2 separate regions of the Homo sapiens genome follow, and region 2 is linked to region 1. Evidence: fine-mapped expression QTL. Tissue or cell type: tibial nerve. Region 1 holds a variant in brackets; the other region holds the start of a gene. All regions are shown on one strand. Distances are between the middles of the regions.

Region 1 (8,101 bases):
AACCTCTGCCTCCTGGGCTCAAACCATCCTCCCACCTCAGCCTCCAGAATAGCTGAAACTACAAGTATGTGCCACCATGCCCAGCTAATTTTTTTTGTATTTTGTAGAGATGGGGTTTTGCCATGTCATCCAGGCTGGTCTCAAACTCTTGGCCTCAAGCGACCCTCTTGCCTCGGCCTCCCAAAGTGCTAGGATTCCATGTGTGAGCCTCCATGCCTGGCCCATCTCTAGAGTTTCTGTTTCCATTTTACTTGATGCTACTAAATGCCCTTAAATGGTCCCCAGCTTAGTGATCCTCTGAATTGTTGGTGGCCAGTGCTCCAATCAGCTCTCTGGGATGGATGAACCTTTACTGATGTCTGTGGGTCCAAATATCTTTGCTCCATTGGCCCCTGACTTTCTCTACCAGCAAGCAGCCTTGATCTGGGAAATCATCTAGCTGGGAGGAGCAAGGCAGGAAGTGGGAGGGAGGGTGGAGTGGGGGAGCGGGGCTGTGGAGGCCTGGGCTCCAGTTCTGATATATATGTGTGTATATATATATATATATATATATATATATATATGTATATATATTTTTTTTTTTTTTTTAGCAGGGTCTTGCTCTATTGCCCAGGCTGGAGTGCAGTGGTGCAGTCATGGCTCACTACAGCCTTGAACTCCTGGCCTCAAGTGATCCTCCTGCCTCAGGCTCTCAAAGTGCTGGGATTACAGATGTGAGCCACCGTGTCCAGCCCCAGTTCTTTTTCTTTTTTTTTTTTTTTTTTTCATTTTTTCTTTTTTTGAGACAGAGTCTCACTCTGTCACCCAGGCTGGAGTGTAGTGACGTGATCTTGGCTCACTGCAACTTCCACCTCCTGGGTTCAAGTGATTCTTGTGCCTCAGCCTCCCGAGTGGCTGGGACTACAGGCATGTGCAGCCACACCTGGCTAATTTTTGTATTTTAGTAGAGATGAGGTTTCACCATGTTGGCCAGGCTGGTCTCGAACTCCTGACCTCAGGTGATTCACCTGCCCCAGCTTCCCAAAGCAGGCCCATTAACCTAGCCCCTGGGAGAGTGGTCTGTGGAGGGAGTCTCCAAAGCCTACTCTGTCTCAGATCTCAACTCCTTCTGCCTTTCTGGGATTCTGGGAACCCCTCCCATGCCTCACCCCATTTTCCCTGCAACAGATGAACAGAAGGAATGTCTGCCATGAGCTACTGCTCTGTCCACCCTGCACAAGCTTGTGACCCCGTGCAGTGGGTCTGGGATGGGGCTGCAGGGCCACTGTGGAGGCAGCGGGACTAGCCATTGTGGCTAGGTGGGAGGAGCCCTGCAGGTGACCTCCTGGAATGGGAAAATAAGCAAGATCATGTGGTGGCCTCAGGAAGGGCTGGAGGCATGGCTGGCTCTTCATCAGCATAGAGGTAGGGAGGGGGCAAAGCAGAAAGTCCTGCCTCAGTCCCCCACTTTCCCTGCATGTTGATACCAGGGCTTTTGGGTATTCTTGTTTCCTCGTTTGCCTCCTCCTCATCCCCACCCCTGTGGCTACAGTCCTGGTCCCCTGTCCTGCCCTGGGGGTGCACAGGCTGCCTGTGGAATGAGTGAGGAAGGATGGGAGGACTGATGGTGTGGTGGATAGACAATTCAGGGAGGAGCAGGTGAGAGAGAAGGAGGCAAACAGTGAGTGGCTGCATGGCTGTGAAAAGCAAGGAAAGTTGGTGAGGAGTGTCCAGTACCAGAGGGGCTTTGGGTGTGGGTGGATGGAAATGAACAATTCGCCAAAAAAAGAACACTACATAGCCAGGTGTAGTAGTGCATGCCTGTGGTCCCAGCTACTTGGGAGGCTGAAGTGTGAGGATCGCTTGAGCCCGGGAGGTCAAGGCTGCAAAGAGAGATGATCGCACCACTGCACTGCAGCTTGGGTGACAGAATGAGTTCCTGTCTCCAAAACAAAACAAGACAAAACAAACAAACAAAAACAGAAAAAGGGGAACACTACAGAAAGGTGAGGGCCATTCTGTGTTCTCACTCAGGGCCCTGGACACAGGATGATCCCGGATGGTGAGGCGGAGGTGAGGACATTGCTGTATGAGCGGAGAGTTGGCTGAGCTGCTAGAATCCCTTCCTCTGAAACGAAGCAGTGAAGGGATGGTGTGGGGAAGGTTGTCAACCAGCCAGCATGCTCCTGGGCCTGTGGAAGGGGAGAGTGTCCACGGTTCACTTGGGGTCCCAGGGACCTTGCCAGCCCTGTACTGGGCTTTGGCATGAAGGGGTGGAGAAGCTCTTCCAAGCTCTGACTGGTGTCTTGGTTACTAAATCCTGAGGGTGGCATGATGAGAACACCAGTGGGGAGCCTTTGGCTGTGGGGTTCTGTGAGTGAGGCAGCATGAAGCAGAAGTTGCCTCTAGATGTCGCCATCTGACCACACTGGCATCAGCTGAGTGCCGTTGGAGGAAAATGTTCATGAGATGCGGCCTGAGGCCTGTCCCCAGCCCAAGCTGGGTCTCCTGGCGACTGCAGCTTGGAGCACCTTTGGAAAGCCTCCTGGGACTTGGGATGTCTTTGGGGCTGGGAACAAGTGTGGGTGGAGGAAGGGCCGGTCCTGTGGTCACCCAGCCCTGTCTTGTAGGGAAGGAACTGCTGGGGTCCCAGGAGAAGCCAGAGCCAGGCAGTGAGCTCCAGATGGTGGGGGAGTGGCTGCCACCTTGACCATCTTCCCCCGCATGGCTGTTCTCCTCTGTGGACCACCCCATGCCTCTGACCCCCATCCTCCCTACCCCATTCCCTACAGCCAGTCCCCACAACCACTCTTCCAGCAGCCCGGGGGGCCATTCCCATCTGTCCTCCCCTGTCCCAGTTCCAATAATGGACTACACCACCTTTATCTTCCACTGCCCCAAATGACGGCTGTCCGTCTAGTCAGTTCCACCCACTACACCACAGTCATCGTGACCATGTCACTCCTTTGCTCCGAACCATGGCTCCCCCTCACCCTAAGGAGGAAAGCTCAGACTCCCTCTCCCCAGGGTGGCCTCTCCAGCCTCCTCCATCTGTTCCCAGCAGGGTGGGCATGGCTGTCACATGTTCCTAGAACATGCCAGGCCTTTGGCCTTGCTGTTCCCTCCGCTGGAACACCTACCACTGCACCATCCACCTCCACCTGTCTTGTTCCTGCGACTCAGCATGACTCTGCTGAAGCATCCCCTGCCCTGGGAAGACTTCCTGGCTTTCCAGGCAGTACCAGCTCCTGTCTCCAGTTCCCATGGCACTGGGACCTCCATCACATCTCCTCAGATAGCTTGCCAATGTCTGTCAGTCTGTCTGCCCTCTTGGCGGCACCAGGGACCTCCTCTGACTCTCCTCTGAGTCCCCAGGGATCAGCCCAGTGCCTGGTATGAAGTAGGCACTTGCACATGCATTTAAAATGTTAGGGAGGAAAGAGTGGGAAAAGAGAAAGAGATCCTTGTCTTTCCTCACAAGCTGAAGTCACCTCTTGCAAGCATTGGGCCTGTGCCCTGGTTATCCCTGGGATGGAGCCGAGAACCCTCCAACTTTTGCTTCTTGCTATGGGCTTTTTGTTTTGAGACAGAGTCTCACTCTGTTGCCCAGACTGGAGTGCAGTGGCAGGATCATGGCTCACTGTAGCCTCAACAATGTCCGGCCTCTAAGCCCAAGCTAAGCCATCATATCCCTTGTGACCTGCACGTATACATCCAGATCACCTGAAGCAACTGAAGATCCACAGAAGAAGTGAAAATAGCCTTAACTGATGACATTCCACCATTGTGATTTGTTTCTGCCCCACCCTAACTGATCAATGTACTTTGTAATCTGCCCCACCCTTAAGAATGTTCTTTGTAATTCTCCCCACCCTTGAGAAGGTACTTTGTGAGATCCACTCCCTGCCTGCCAAACGTTGCTCCTAACTCCACCGCCTATCCCAAAACCTGTAAGAACTAATGATTAATCCACCACCCTTTCTTTGCTGACTCTCTTTTCGGACTCAGCCCACTTGCACCCAGGTGAAATAAACAGCCTTGTTGCTCACACAAAGCCTGTTTGGTGGTCTCTTCACACGGACACGTGAGACAAACTTCCCCTGGCTCAGGTGATCCTCCCACCTCAGCCTTCCGAGTAGCTGGGGCTACAGGCGTGCACCATCACCTGGCTAATTTTTGTATTTTTTGTGGAGATGAGGTTTCGCCATGTTGCTCCAGCTGGCCCTGTTATGGTTTTAAGGATAACCACAAATTCCTTGACACTCTTTCCATCAAGGAGTGGGGTCTAATTCCTCTCCTCTTGAATCTGGGCTGGCCTTAGAGTCTTGCTTATAACTGTCTCACGCACGTCCATGTGAAGAGAGTCCACCAAACAGGTTTTGTGTGAGCAACAAGGCTGTTTATTTATTTTGGACTCAAGGCGGGCTGAGTCCGAAAAAGGAGTCAGCAAGGGTGGTGGGATTATCATTAGCTCTTATAGGTT[T/C]GGGGATAGACGGTGGAGTTAGGAGCAATGTTTGGCAGGCAGGGAGTGGATCTCACAAAGTACCTTCTCAAGGGTGGGGAGAATTACAAAGAACCTTCTTAAGGGTGGGGGAGATTACAAAGTACATTGATCAGTTAGGGTGGGGAAGAAACAAATCACAATGGTGGAATGTCATCAGTTAAGGCTATTTTCACTTCTTTTGTGGATCTTCAGTTGCTCCAGGCCATCTGGATGTATAGGTGCAGGTCACAAGGGATATGATGGCTTAGCTTGAGCTCAGAGGCCTGACAACAACTAATAGAATATAGTAAGTCTTTATATAATGTCCTCACTTAATGTAGTTCTTGGAAATTGCAGCTTTAAGCAAAATGACATACAAGGAAACCAATTTTGTCATAGGCTAATTGACATAAACAAGAGTTAAGTTCCTACAGCATATTTCTGGTGATAGAAATATCATCAGACTTCTAAATAAAGACCCAAATGCTTCTCATATTAAACATTGAAACACGTGTAAGAAAGACTAATAGAAACAAGGCCAGGTGTGGTGGCTCACACCTGTAATCCCAGCACTTTGGGAGGCTGGGGAAGGTGGATCACCTGAGGTCAGGGATTTGAGACCAGCCTGGCCAACATGGCGAAACCCTGTCTCTCCTAAAAATACAAAAATTAGCCGGGCTTGGTGGTGGGCACCTGTAATCCCAGCTGCTCAGGAGGCTGAGGCAGGAGAATTTCTTGAATCCAGGAGGCGGAGGTTGCAGTGAGCCAAGATTGTGTCATTGCACTCCAGCGTGGGCAACAAGAGTGAAACTCCATCTCAAAAAAAAAAAAAAAAAAGAAAGAAAGAAAGATTAATAAAAACAAGTAATAGAATTATTTATCCAGTTATTCCAGTTCAAGGTCATGGATGGCTGGAGCCTATCCCAGCAGCTCAGGGCGCCAGGCGGGAACCAGGCCTAGACAGGATGCCATTGCCTTGAGTACACTCACACTCATGCAGACTGGGAGCATGCAGACAAGCTAGTTAATCTAACATGCACATCTTTGGGATGGGGGAAGAAACCAGAGTACCCAGAGAAAGTCCTCTACAGACTCCACACAGACAGTAGCCCCAGCCAGAAATAGATTTTTTTCTTCATCAATGTTGTAACAAAATAATGTTGAACAAAATGAGCCAGGAGTGGTCGCACACCCCTGTAGTTCCAGCCACTTGGGAGGCTGAGGCAGAAGGATCGCTTGAACCCAGGAGTTTGAGGTTACAGTGAGCTATGATCATGCCACTGCACTCCAGCCTGAGCAATAGAGACCTGTCTCTAAAACAAACAAACAAACAAACAAACAAATCATTAAAAAAAATAATAAAAGCTTTCAGTGACATCCTCCCATTTCTGCCTCCCACCATCCTCCCCTGCTTCCAAGGAGTCAGAAAAATGTCACAATCCCTTCATGATGTGCAAGGCTGAGTGTGACCTGGCCCTGCCCACTCTTCAACCCCATCTCATACCTCTACCACTTCTGTGCTTCAGCCACTCTGAGTTGCTTCCAGTGAGGGAGTCTCTCTGTTAACTGGACATAGTAGGGACTCAATTTGTGATAATTTGTGATCATAAACTAGGTCACATCTGTGAGCCTTGCTGAGCACTTTACATGTATTATCTCATTTAATCTTCATGCAACCCTATGATCAAGTATTATTAACCCATTTTACAGATGAAGAAACTGAGCCTGGGCATGTAAAAGGTTGTGCCCAAGGTCACAAAAATAGTAAATGCAGAGTCGAGTTTGAAACCCTGGTGTCTGAATCCAAACCTTCCTCAGCAATCATGTGATTCTACCGAATAGGTATTGATTTGATAAGAAGCATGTGCTCCACCTGCTCCCCAAAGGCCGGGCAGCAACTTAGGAGGGAGAGTGAGCTGTTGGTCTATGGAAGCATTCTAGCAAGAGCTGGGGAGCACTAGGCAAGATGTGAATTGGACGGAGTGTGGGGGCCCCACCCTGAGGCTGGGACCTCTGCCTATGCCTGGGATTGGGGGCTGTGTGCACGCATGGGTCATGTGATACCCTGTATATGGCCTTTCCCTGTGTCCAGGCCAGCCTAGTCCTTGGGGCTGGGGGTGGGCAAGAGCAGGTGGAAGCTTGGGGAGCCCGCCTCGAGCAGGCAGAGTCCAGCAGACCATAGCCTGTCCACTGTCCTGACCCTGTGGCCCTGGACTGGCCTCTGCCCTGGGCCTGGCACCTCTGGCTTGGGGAAGGGCCCAGAACTACTCAGGCACACAGTGAGGCCTGCCCTCCCACCTGCTACCAGGCAGAATTTATCTCAACTGAGTGAGAAATAGAGAGAGGGAGAGAGAAAGAGAGAAAGGGAGAGAGAGAGAGAGGCAATTGCGTAAGAGGATTTGAACAAAAATGGTTATGGCACTGGTGTTTGTAAGAAAGAGAAACTGGACACTGTTTACATGTCCTCCTCAAGGGCTGGACAAAGAGATTCTGATGTGTCCATCCTGGCAGACTTTAGAAATAATTAGGAAAAGAAAAAGTGATGGGGGAAGATCTTTATAGTTTATCTGACAGGAAACTGCTAATTGTCAATACTGTAAATGTTGGGGGGAATTGATCACAAAACAGAATGTACAGTGTGACCCCAAGTTGAAATCCTTCCCCCAGCCCTCACACACACTCTTCCACCAGCTCCCTCGTGACTTACCCTGTTGGCCAGTGGCCAGAGGGTGGGGGAGGGGGCTTATCTTGGGAAGTGGATGAGATCACCCCGAGGCTGGCTGGTTTAGTACCGGGTAACCTTTTCTACCCTTATGGCTCTCAGAGGCTTCTGTGCTGGCTCCTAAACCTTGGCGCCAACCTCAGGCTGGAGGGGGTTATGCTCCCCCTCCCCAGGGTGGAGATGGTGGCCAAAGCCGGATAGGGCACAGGTGCTGGGCTGACGCAGAGATGGAGTGGCAGAGGGGGTCTGGGGAGTTCCAGGGCTCAGCTGGGACCCTATGAGAACTCTGCTCCCAGCAGATCTGGGTGTCCTGTCATTTCCCAGGGACCTGTGTGTGCAGAAAATACATTTTGTGGATACAGGAATATCCCAGAGGATAGCCACTGTGTGAAGGGCCGAGGGGTCTCCCTGGCAGTGCCTCTAACACCTTGGCATGTCTTGGGATTCCAGTCAGCCAGCCGGGCTCTCCTCGGACAGGACTCCTCTTGTTTCTGGCCAAAATTCTGGTGAGGATGGTTGTGGGGGGAAGAGATAAGTCTGTGTTGGGAAAGGGACTAGGGCTCAATTCCAGCTCAGCAAATAAATATTCTGTTCAACCCTCTGCCTGCCCCCTACCTCCCACGCCCCCACTCTCCCACCCCCCGGTGCCTATCAGGCGACTTCCAGCCTTAAGGAAACTTTGCAGTGTGTCCCAATCCCCTGAGCACAGCCACACCTCTGAGCCTTTGCCCAGACAGTTGTCCCAACCTGACCACCTTTCCCCTCTCCAGCTGCCTTTGTCAACCCCCACCCTGGAGCTGGGTCAGGTGCCATCTGTCCCCAAGTCAGCGTCCATCATGTCAGCTTGTCTATGTTCATCTGGGGTGAGCCTGAGGGCAGGAGCTGGGTCCAGGGAAAATTCTAGGACATGCTGGATG
Region 2 (8,101 bases), 28 kb after region 1:
TCCTATACAAATGCAAGACCTCTCATTCCAGGCAGGGCGGGCTCCCGGCAGCTGTTCCCACCAAAACTGAATTAGCCAATGCTGAGCATGGAATGTTCTGGCCTGGATACTCATGGTAGAGAGAACAGTGAGTGCCTCCTCCGTAGCTCAACCCCAGTGAAGTGGTGGAGGAGCCATGTGGAGCTGTGTGTGCCTTCACAAACCACCCCTCGGAGGTCTCTATCCCCAACCTCAGCTGATTCCAGCCCCTCAAGAGGGAACAGGGCAGAAATACCAGCTGTGGAGCCAGATCCTGTCTGGTTGTGAGACCCAGGGTTCCTGCCTGGTTGTGAGACCCAGGGTTCCTGCCTGGTTGTGAGACCCAGGGCAGAATGTGCTCCCCTGAGCAGCCTGTTTCCCTTTATGGACAGTGAAGTGATTGAACCCTCAATCAGTTGGGCAACGCCAGGCCCCAGTGCAGAAAGAGAAGAATCTGGATAACAGGGACTGGGAGGGGTTTGTGTCTCCTGCTCCTTGAACCTCTAACCAGACCCGATGCCCATCCCAGCTGGCTAAATCTGGACCCTCACATTAACACATCATGGCCACACACTAGGGTGGGGCAGTGAGCCCCCATCCCTCAACTTCAGAAATCCTTCCAGCTCCTGAAGCGCCCAGATAGGAGGAAAGAGAGTCAACAGCCATGACTATCAGGAAATAGCCTTTATTACAAAAATCTGCATGTAAACAAATAGCTACCGCACTGAAGAGCCTCCCTCCAGGGCAGGCACACCCGGGCTGTGAAAAAAGGCAGAGTCCTCTCCCGGCACGCAGGCCTGCCCGGCGGCTGCGCTGCGGCTGCTTGGGACGCATATGAGCCTGCGCATGCATCTCTGTGGGCCCAGCCCTCACTGGCCCCTGAGAGCCACTTCGCAGGGCAGCACTGTCTATCTGTCCATGACCATGAGGTTGGGGGTGCCCGGCTGGCAGCTCCGAGGGACCCAGAGTCTGAGCCTGCTCTGAGGCACCCGGGGCAGTTGGCTGGGCCAGCCCACCAACCCTTCCGTTCGTCTCCCACCATAGTGGGAGCGGGTGGGACCTAGAGAACCGAGAGGTCGTGGCAGGACTTGGATTTGGCGCGAAAGGCCATCTTGCGGCTGTTACGAGCTACGATGCGGCCCAAGAAGCGCTTCGCCTTTTTGCCAAGGCTCTCTCGCCTCCGGGTGCCTGCTTGCCGTCGTGCGTTGGCTTCTTTGCTGTCCCTGCGCAGGCGTATCTGGCGCACGACACCTTCAAACAGCGCCTGGACATTGTGGTGCAATGCCGCTGATGTCTCAATGAACTTGCAGTCAAAGACCACCGCGCAGGCCCGGCCCTCTGTGTGGGTGGGGAAAGGCAGGCACCAGTAAACAAAGGGTGGGTGAATGAGGAGTCCCCTCCAACAGTGGCCACCCATGGAAGCTGCCACTCGAGAATTTGCAAGGTCCTCCCCGAAAACACAGAGACCCCAGCTCCTGTACTGAGGGTACTGGGCACTGCTGCGTCACCCAGTAGGCAGAGTGCCTGCATTTAAGGAGCCCCCAAAACAGTGGCCCTCAAAAGGAGATCCATTTATTGAAATAATTTGAAGCCTGATATTTAAACAAAGTACGACAGTAGTAAACACAGGAAAATGAGAACTATGTTGGACAACTTAGTATTTTATTTTATTTTATTTTATTTTTCTGAGATAGAGTCTCGCTGTCTCCCAGGCTGGAGTGCAGTGGCACAATCTCTGCTCACTGAAAGCTCCGCCTCCCGGGTTCACGCCATTCTCCTGCCTCAGCCTCCCGAGTAGCTGGGACTACAGGCGCCCGCCACCACGCCCGGCTAATTTTTGTATTTTTAGTAGAGATGGGGTTTCACCATGCTAGCCAGGATGGTCTCGATCTCCTGACCTCGTGATCCACCCGCCTCGGCCTCCCAAAGTGCTGGGATTACAGGCGTTAGCCACCCCCTGGCCCATGCCCCGCACAACTTAGTATTTTTTAATTCGAGGTTATATCATGATGAATGATCCAGTGGACTGGGGTTGCGGAGGCAAGGTCACCAAGTCACTGCTGGGTTCCTCTGAGGGGCTCAGTACTGGGGTCCACAGAAAAGGATGCTGAGGCCAAGTGGGAAGGGTCTTCCCCAGGGCCAAGTCTACTCTAAGAATGGCCCAGACCTAGCACACAGGCTCTGACCTCCTGGCCTGTTCCCCTACACTCTCTTCCACCCATTTACCCCCCCAACCAGCCAGGCCAGGACCAAGAGGGGCAGGAGAGGAGGGCCCTGCGGTGCCCAGCTCCCCTATCAGATTTGGTTCTTTCCCCAGCCCTCTGGGGCCTTCCGGAGCCCTGTGAGCAGGCACCAGCTCTCTCCCATTTCCCTCCCCGCCAGTTTTCTTTCTGAACATTTTTAGCCTCTGATGATCCCCAGGGACTCAAGCTGAGCCAAGACTGCCTGGATCAGGGCCCAGCTGGGCTCTCCCTCCCCCTGCAACCTGCCGCCTACTCACCATCCACCGAGACCTCACGAGAGCGCACCAGGTCGCTCTTGTTGCCCACGAGGATGATGGGCACATCATCTGTTTGCCGTGCACGCCGCAGCTGGACCCGCAGTTCTGAGGCCTTCTCGAAGCTGCCCTTGTCCGTCACTGAGTACACAATGACATAGGCATCCCCCATGGCCATGCAGTGGCCGGGCAACCAGCGGCCCCCGTCCTGGAGAACACACAACACACATCTGCCCAACAGTCCTCATGCCCCCGACACGAGCCTGGCACTCCCAGACCTCTAACCCAACTCACTCCTCCCTCCCCTGCCCTGGGTCTCTGCTTGCACCCTACCTGCTCCCAAATGTCGTAGACCATGAGTGATGCCTCTTCTCCGTCCACTACAATGGAGCGATCATAGGTGTGCCCTAGGCAGAAGGCCAGTAGACAGGTTACCAGCTGGTTGTCAAAGCCGCTGCTGCCAGGTTTCCTGTTCTGGCCACACCCTCCAACTCTTCCCCAGAGCCCTCCTTACCCTCCACTCCACTTGCAGATGCTGGTATGTGGCAACAGCAGTGCCAGGCAGGGAAGTGGGGGCTGGAGGGCATGGTGTGCCTGACCTCCACCCACATGCCCCCCCTGGGGACCTTGGCCACCTAGGGCTCCTCTCTTAGAAATCCCTCTGGTTAGAAACTCTGACCTGTCCCTGATAGGCAGGGAGGGATGTCCAGTCCCATCCCACAGAGTAGCCATATCTATGCCCTGGCCTTCTACTCTGGGCATTTCTTCCCTACCAAAGGCTGGGGGGTGTCCCTTCTCCTTTCCTTTCCCCATTTATGAAGTGGGTAGGTAGAGGCATGATTCTGAAAGCGCCAATAGAATTCCACAGTATTGGCCAGGTGCGGTGGCTCACGCCTGTAATCCCAGCACTTTGGGAAGCCAAGGTGGGCGGATCACGAGGTCAGAAATTCCAGACCAGCCTGGCCAACATGGTGAAACCCCAACTCTACTAAAAACACAAATATTAGCCGGGCGTGGTAGCAGGCGCCTGTAATCCTAGCTACTCTGGAGGCTGAGGCAGGAGAATCCCTTGAAACCTGAAGGCGGAGGTTGCAGTGAGCCTAGATCGAGGCCACTGCACTCCAGCCTGGGAAAAAGAGCGAAACTCTGTCTCAAAATAATAATAAAATAATAATAATAATAATAATAACAACAACAACAACTATAATTCCACGGTATTTGCGGCTTTGAGTACCGGTCTCAGCCCCTAGTCCTAGCCCCGGGATCGCCCCTCCCCTGAACAGCTGGGTCCCCTCACCTGCTGCCTCTGCTTCAGGCCCGTCCTCCACACCGCCGAAGATGCGCGCCAGGGCGCTCTTGCCCACGCCGGGCGCCCCCAGCAGCAGCACCTTGTAAACGCTCTCGTCTGAGTCGCTGCCCCCTGAGCTGAGCGAGTCCTCGGAGTCCTCGGGCCAGTCCAGCCTGGGACCCTGGGTCCCCGTCCCGGCCGCGGCCGCCGTCAGGGCACCCGGGGTCAGCGCCGCCTGCAGGTCGCGCTCGTCCACCGGCATGCTGCGGCGGTGCAGCGGCGGGGCGGGGCCCCAGGGTGTGCTGCCCCGACGGCGCTCGCGCTCCTGGCCCCCACCGCGGCTCCCGCCCGCTCCGCTGCCGCCGCCGTTCAGGGTCATCGCGTCCGGGACCGTCTAGGGGATCAGGAACCCGAGTGGCCGTGTAAGCCGCGAGGGAGGCGGGACCCGGGGCGCACCTGCCCAACCCGGAGTCAGGCGGGATGCTCCGGCCGAGGTCCCGCCGCAGCCCTCCCCCAGCCCCCAGGTCGCGGCGCCCTCACCCGGGACCCCTCCGGACCTGGCGCATCCATCTGCAGCCGCCCCGACCCCGCTCCGCCAGGACACTCACCCACTCGCACACAGACACGCTCAGGACTAGGATCCGGATTAGGAGGCCACGCACTCGTAGTCCGGACTCGGACTTTAGGGTTTCCGCCGCCGCTGCTGCTGCAGCCACCGCCTTCTCAGCCCGCACTGGGCTCTGGCTCCAGAGCCGCCTATTTAAGCCTCCACCCGCCCCCGCTCCCGCCCCCGGTCCACGCTGCTGCGGGGGCTGACGTGTCTGTCCACCCCCACCAGGGGAATCCCCCACCCTCTTCCTCGGACCTTACATCCCCGACACCCCGCCCTACCCGCCAGGGGAGTAGCGGTAGCTGTCTGGGAATAGAGGGGCTGACCGGTAGGCGAGGTCCGGAGCTGAGGGTGTGTGTGAGAAGGAGAGAGAGAGCGAGGTTGCGGGGGGAGTACGTGATGGGGAGGCAGGCAGCGGGGTAAACCCAATCAGCCAAAAGCAGCAACTGCCCTCTGGAGAAGAATTCGGTCTGGCCCCGTGAGACTGAATTCTCCCTTTCCTCTCCCCAAGTCCCGGCTCGTCCTTTTAGCAAGTAAGCTAGTTACAGGCTGGACAGAGATCCCCCTTCTCTGCCCATGACACCCACTCCCCATAGGCTCAGGTCTGAGCTAGAATTTAGGGGGTGTCCTAAATTCACACAAAATCCTTTCCACTCCCCATCCTGGAGTTGAAGATTCTCCCTAATGAGCCTAACCTTCAGTGTGAGGGTTGGTGTCACCCCATGAGCCCCTGGGGGCCCTGAGAGGGCTGTTGGGGGTGGGGGCAGCTCTGACAGAGTTGCAGGTGGAGATGCCTGCTTGAACCCTGGGGAGGATACCCCAGCCCAGAAGAGGGAAGGGATTAAACTCAGTCCCCATCCCACCTCCCAGCACCCACCAGGCAGCTGCCAGCAACTCTGCTAAAAATAAATAATCTGCCCCAGCCCTGGCCCTGGCCGTGGCTCTGGTTATTCTGCTCCTGGACTGGAAGTTGCCCAGAGTTGGGGAAATCCAGGCCAATGGGTGTTGAATGCCAGCAGGAGCCAGCCACTTCGAGTCGTCAAGGTCTCCCTTCTTCCCTCTAGCTGTAGGCTGAGCCAGCCACCCAGGGCACATCCAGGGCCTGGAGGTTCAGGCCCCCACCCAAAAGGGGCATAAACACAGGGTGTGGTCAAGGCATGAGGAGTGTCTTAGCTCCCTGCTCATCTCTCAGGGGTCTGAGGGTTGCAGGTCAGGCTGTGAGGTATTTTGTGACAGGGACCTGCTATCAGACTGTGACATCTGATTGTGACAAGTGTGGTGGGGGTGGGAGGGCATCCATTTGGGGCTCAGGTGACATCACAGATGGATGGACCCTGGTGGGCTGTGGTAGGTTGTCATGGAGACCTGGGCCAGGCTCTTTGGCTGCTGCATCAGTTTCCTTGGCAACGCCTAAGAAGGCCTTGGATTGAGGAGGGCCTGGCTCGGTAAGATTAGGGCCCTCTTGTCCTTGAGGTCTTCAAAGTAGGCAAAAGCTGGGCTGAGGGGTGGCCTGCCCATGGTCCTAGGGGATCTTGGAGGCCTGAGCATCCCCATGCTGGTTCTGGCTTCCTGAACGAACTCCAGTGGGAAGAGGAAGTTATGGGCAGAGCCTCCCGTTAGCAGGCAAGTCTAAAGAGCCACCACACACTTCCCATGAGGAATCCTGGCTGGGCTGCCTGTGCCCCCTCCAACCCCATGACTGTGCCACTGGAAAGAGCCTCCTCTGGGTGTCTGGCAGAGGGCGAGGGTGGGGGGTAGCTGTGGCCCTTCCCAGCAGGGGGCCATGCAAAGAAGGAGGGCTGGGTTTCCCCTCTGGCAATCTGAGCTCTTGACCTCAGCAGTGTTTCTTCATTGCCAAGGGAACTGCAACCACAAAGGGCCACTCAAGCCCCAGGCATTCCAGTGGCTGCTCCAACAGGCCAGAGACACTCACCACAAGCTAGATATGGCCAGGGGCCCCAGGGATTAACACCAGGACACAACCTTGAGACACCCCCACTCCCACCACCTGGTTCTCCCAGCTCTCTGGGCTGAGCATGGCTGCCCAGGAGGAATAAACTGAGGCTAGAACCACTCCTAGGTCCGCCCGGGCTTCAGATCCCAGCTGTGCTCCTTGCTAGCTGTTTCACCTGTGTCCATTTATCTAGGCTGAGCCTCAGTTTCTCCAGTGTAGAACAGGGATCACCTCTTCCTGATGGTTATTATAAGACAAAACAAACATGAAATGCAGAGGCACAGTAGTTGGCTCAAGTCGGGCACACAGTAATATCTCACTAAGAGCACGTTTATCATGATCATCCTTCGTTGGATGGGGCAGGTTAGGTGAATTTGTGGTCCCTCTCCTGTTTCTGCTCCACTCTCTCCAGGATGGTGGTCTGTCCAGGAGTGGGGCAGAGGTCTCAGGAACAATGCAGATACCTCTCCCCTAGCCCCATACCCATGTCTCCTCTCTGTAGGACCCCACACTCTTCCCCGTCCCTCAGGTGACAAGATGCTGCAGAGGGAACTGGGCTGGGCTTCAGTGTCCCCACCCCCTCCTCACACCACAGCCTTCAGGCCCCAGAGCCTCTGCTGTGTTCTAAGGCCCAATGCATTCATTCATTCCGCGGTCCTGTACTAAATACCTACTGTGTGCCAGGCCCTTGTGCTGGGGGCAGGATGATGAGCAAAAATAGACATGGCCGGGCATGTTCATACATGTCATCTAATCCCTGGGTCAAACTCAGCTATGATTTGTTGTTCCCATTTTGTAGACATGGTAACCAAAGCCTGAGGAGTCACAGGCCAGAAACAGCAGAGCCAGACATACCTGGTGGAGGGTTTCAGGAACCTCAAACTTCACCATCCCCTGTACCCTTGTGTCCTCAGATAGCATCTGGGGTTCCAGAAAGTTCCCTGGGCACTGGCCCAGGATGCACAGATGGTGGCCCTGCAGGCAGCCAGGGGCCAGGCACTGATGAGTCAAGAGTGACAAGAGAACTATCTGATATGTCAGCTGTGGCATGAGCAGTTTGGTGTCCCTCACCCACCATGGCCTGGCTGCCAGGAAGGCCAGCCAAATGACTCAATCACACCTGCCGCCCCCATGACTCCCTTCATCCCCAGCTCAACACAGACACCATGGCCACCTCAGACAGGGACTGTCCGGCAGAAGGTACACACGTCGTAGGGTGTGAGGCCTTCAGCTCGGGAAGGCTCCCTGGGGCTCAGCTGTTCACTCTGCCTCTCTGGAGCCCTCAGCTTCCTCATCTGTGCGGGATACAGTGCCTAGATCATCAGAGCTAGGCCTAGACCCATTTAAATCTCCCAAGGGCAGTCCCAAGTGGTTGCCATGACTATCCCCCTCACAGATGAAGAAGCTCTGGGCAATAGGGGCTGATGGCTTCACCTCTCTGATCTTAGGTAGCCAGATCCAGCACCTCCTCTTGGTCATTAGGTGGCGAGGCCACTCCCTCCTAAGAGTGAGCTGAGTGGGAGCAATAGGAGTTGGGGTTCAGGATGGGCTTAGCCCCTTCTGTAGGCAACGGCGCCCCCTGCCAGCTGCACAGCACCTATCAAGCTGCTCAGGGCCTCCTTTACTCCCTAGCTGTAAGTTTTTTTTTTTTTTTGAGACAGGGTGTTGCTCTGTCACCCAGGACGGAGTGCAGTGGCACAATCATAGCTCACTGCAGCCTCAACCTCCTGGGCT

Evidence for each region. PIP is the estimated chance that this variant, and not a neighbour inherited with it, causes the effect.
Region 2: it holds the start of RRAD, and the variant in region 1 is fine-mapped to the expression of RRAD in tibial nerve (GTEx, PIP above 0.99).

Annotation. Positions count from the first base shown.
Region 1 is chr16:66,892,982-66,901,082 of GRCh38, forward strand. It overlaps LOC124903700 (a long non-coding RNA gene), which reads left to right. Exons shown (of 2, transcript XR_007065089.1): 2 at 2,014-4,033. It overlaps LOC107984821 (a long non-coding RNA gene), which reads right to left. Exons shown (of 3, transcript XR_001752244.2): 2 at 7,612-7,687; 3 at 6,708-7,512. Among named protein-coding and RNA genes, the nearest start is that of PDP2, 17 kb to the left of the region's middle. RefSeq lists enhancers at 6,127-7,022, 7,023-7,916. The variant T/C (reference allele first, on the strand shown) is at 4,463.
Region 2 is chr16:66,920,998-66,929,098 of GRCh38, forward strand. It overlaps RRAD (RRAD, Ras related glycolysis inhibitor and calcium channel regulator), which reads right to left and starts at 4,538. Exons shown (of 5, transcript NM_004165.3): 1 at 4,412-4,538; 2 at 3,813-4,197; 3 at 2,849-2,922; 4 at 2,519-2,723; 5 at 688-1,356. The coding sequence starts at 4,182. The coding sequence ends at 1,079. RefSeq lists enhancers at 645-1,168, 1,169-1,692, 6,158-7,357, 7,075-7,244 and silencers at 3,903-4,342, 4,473-4,532.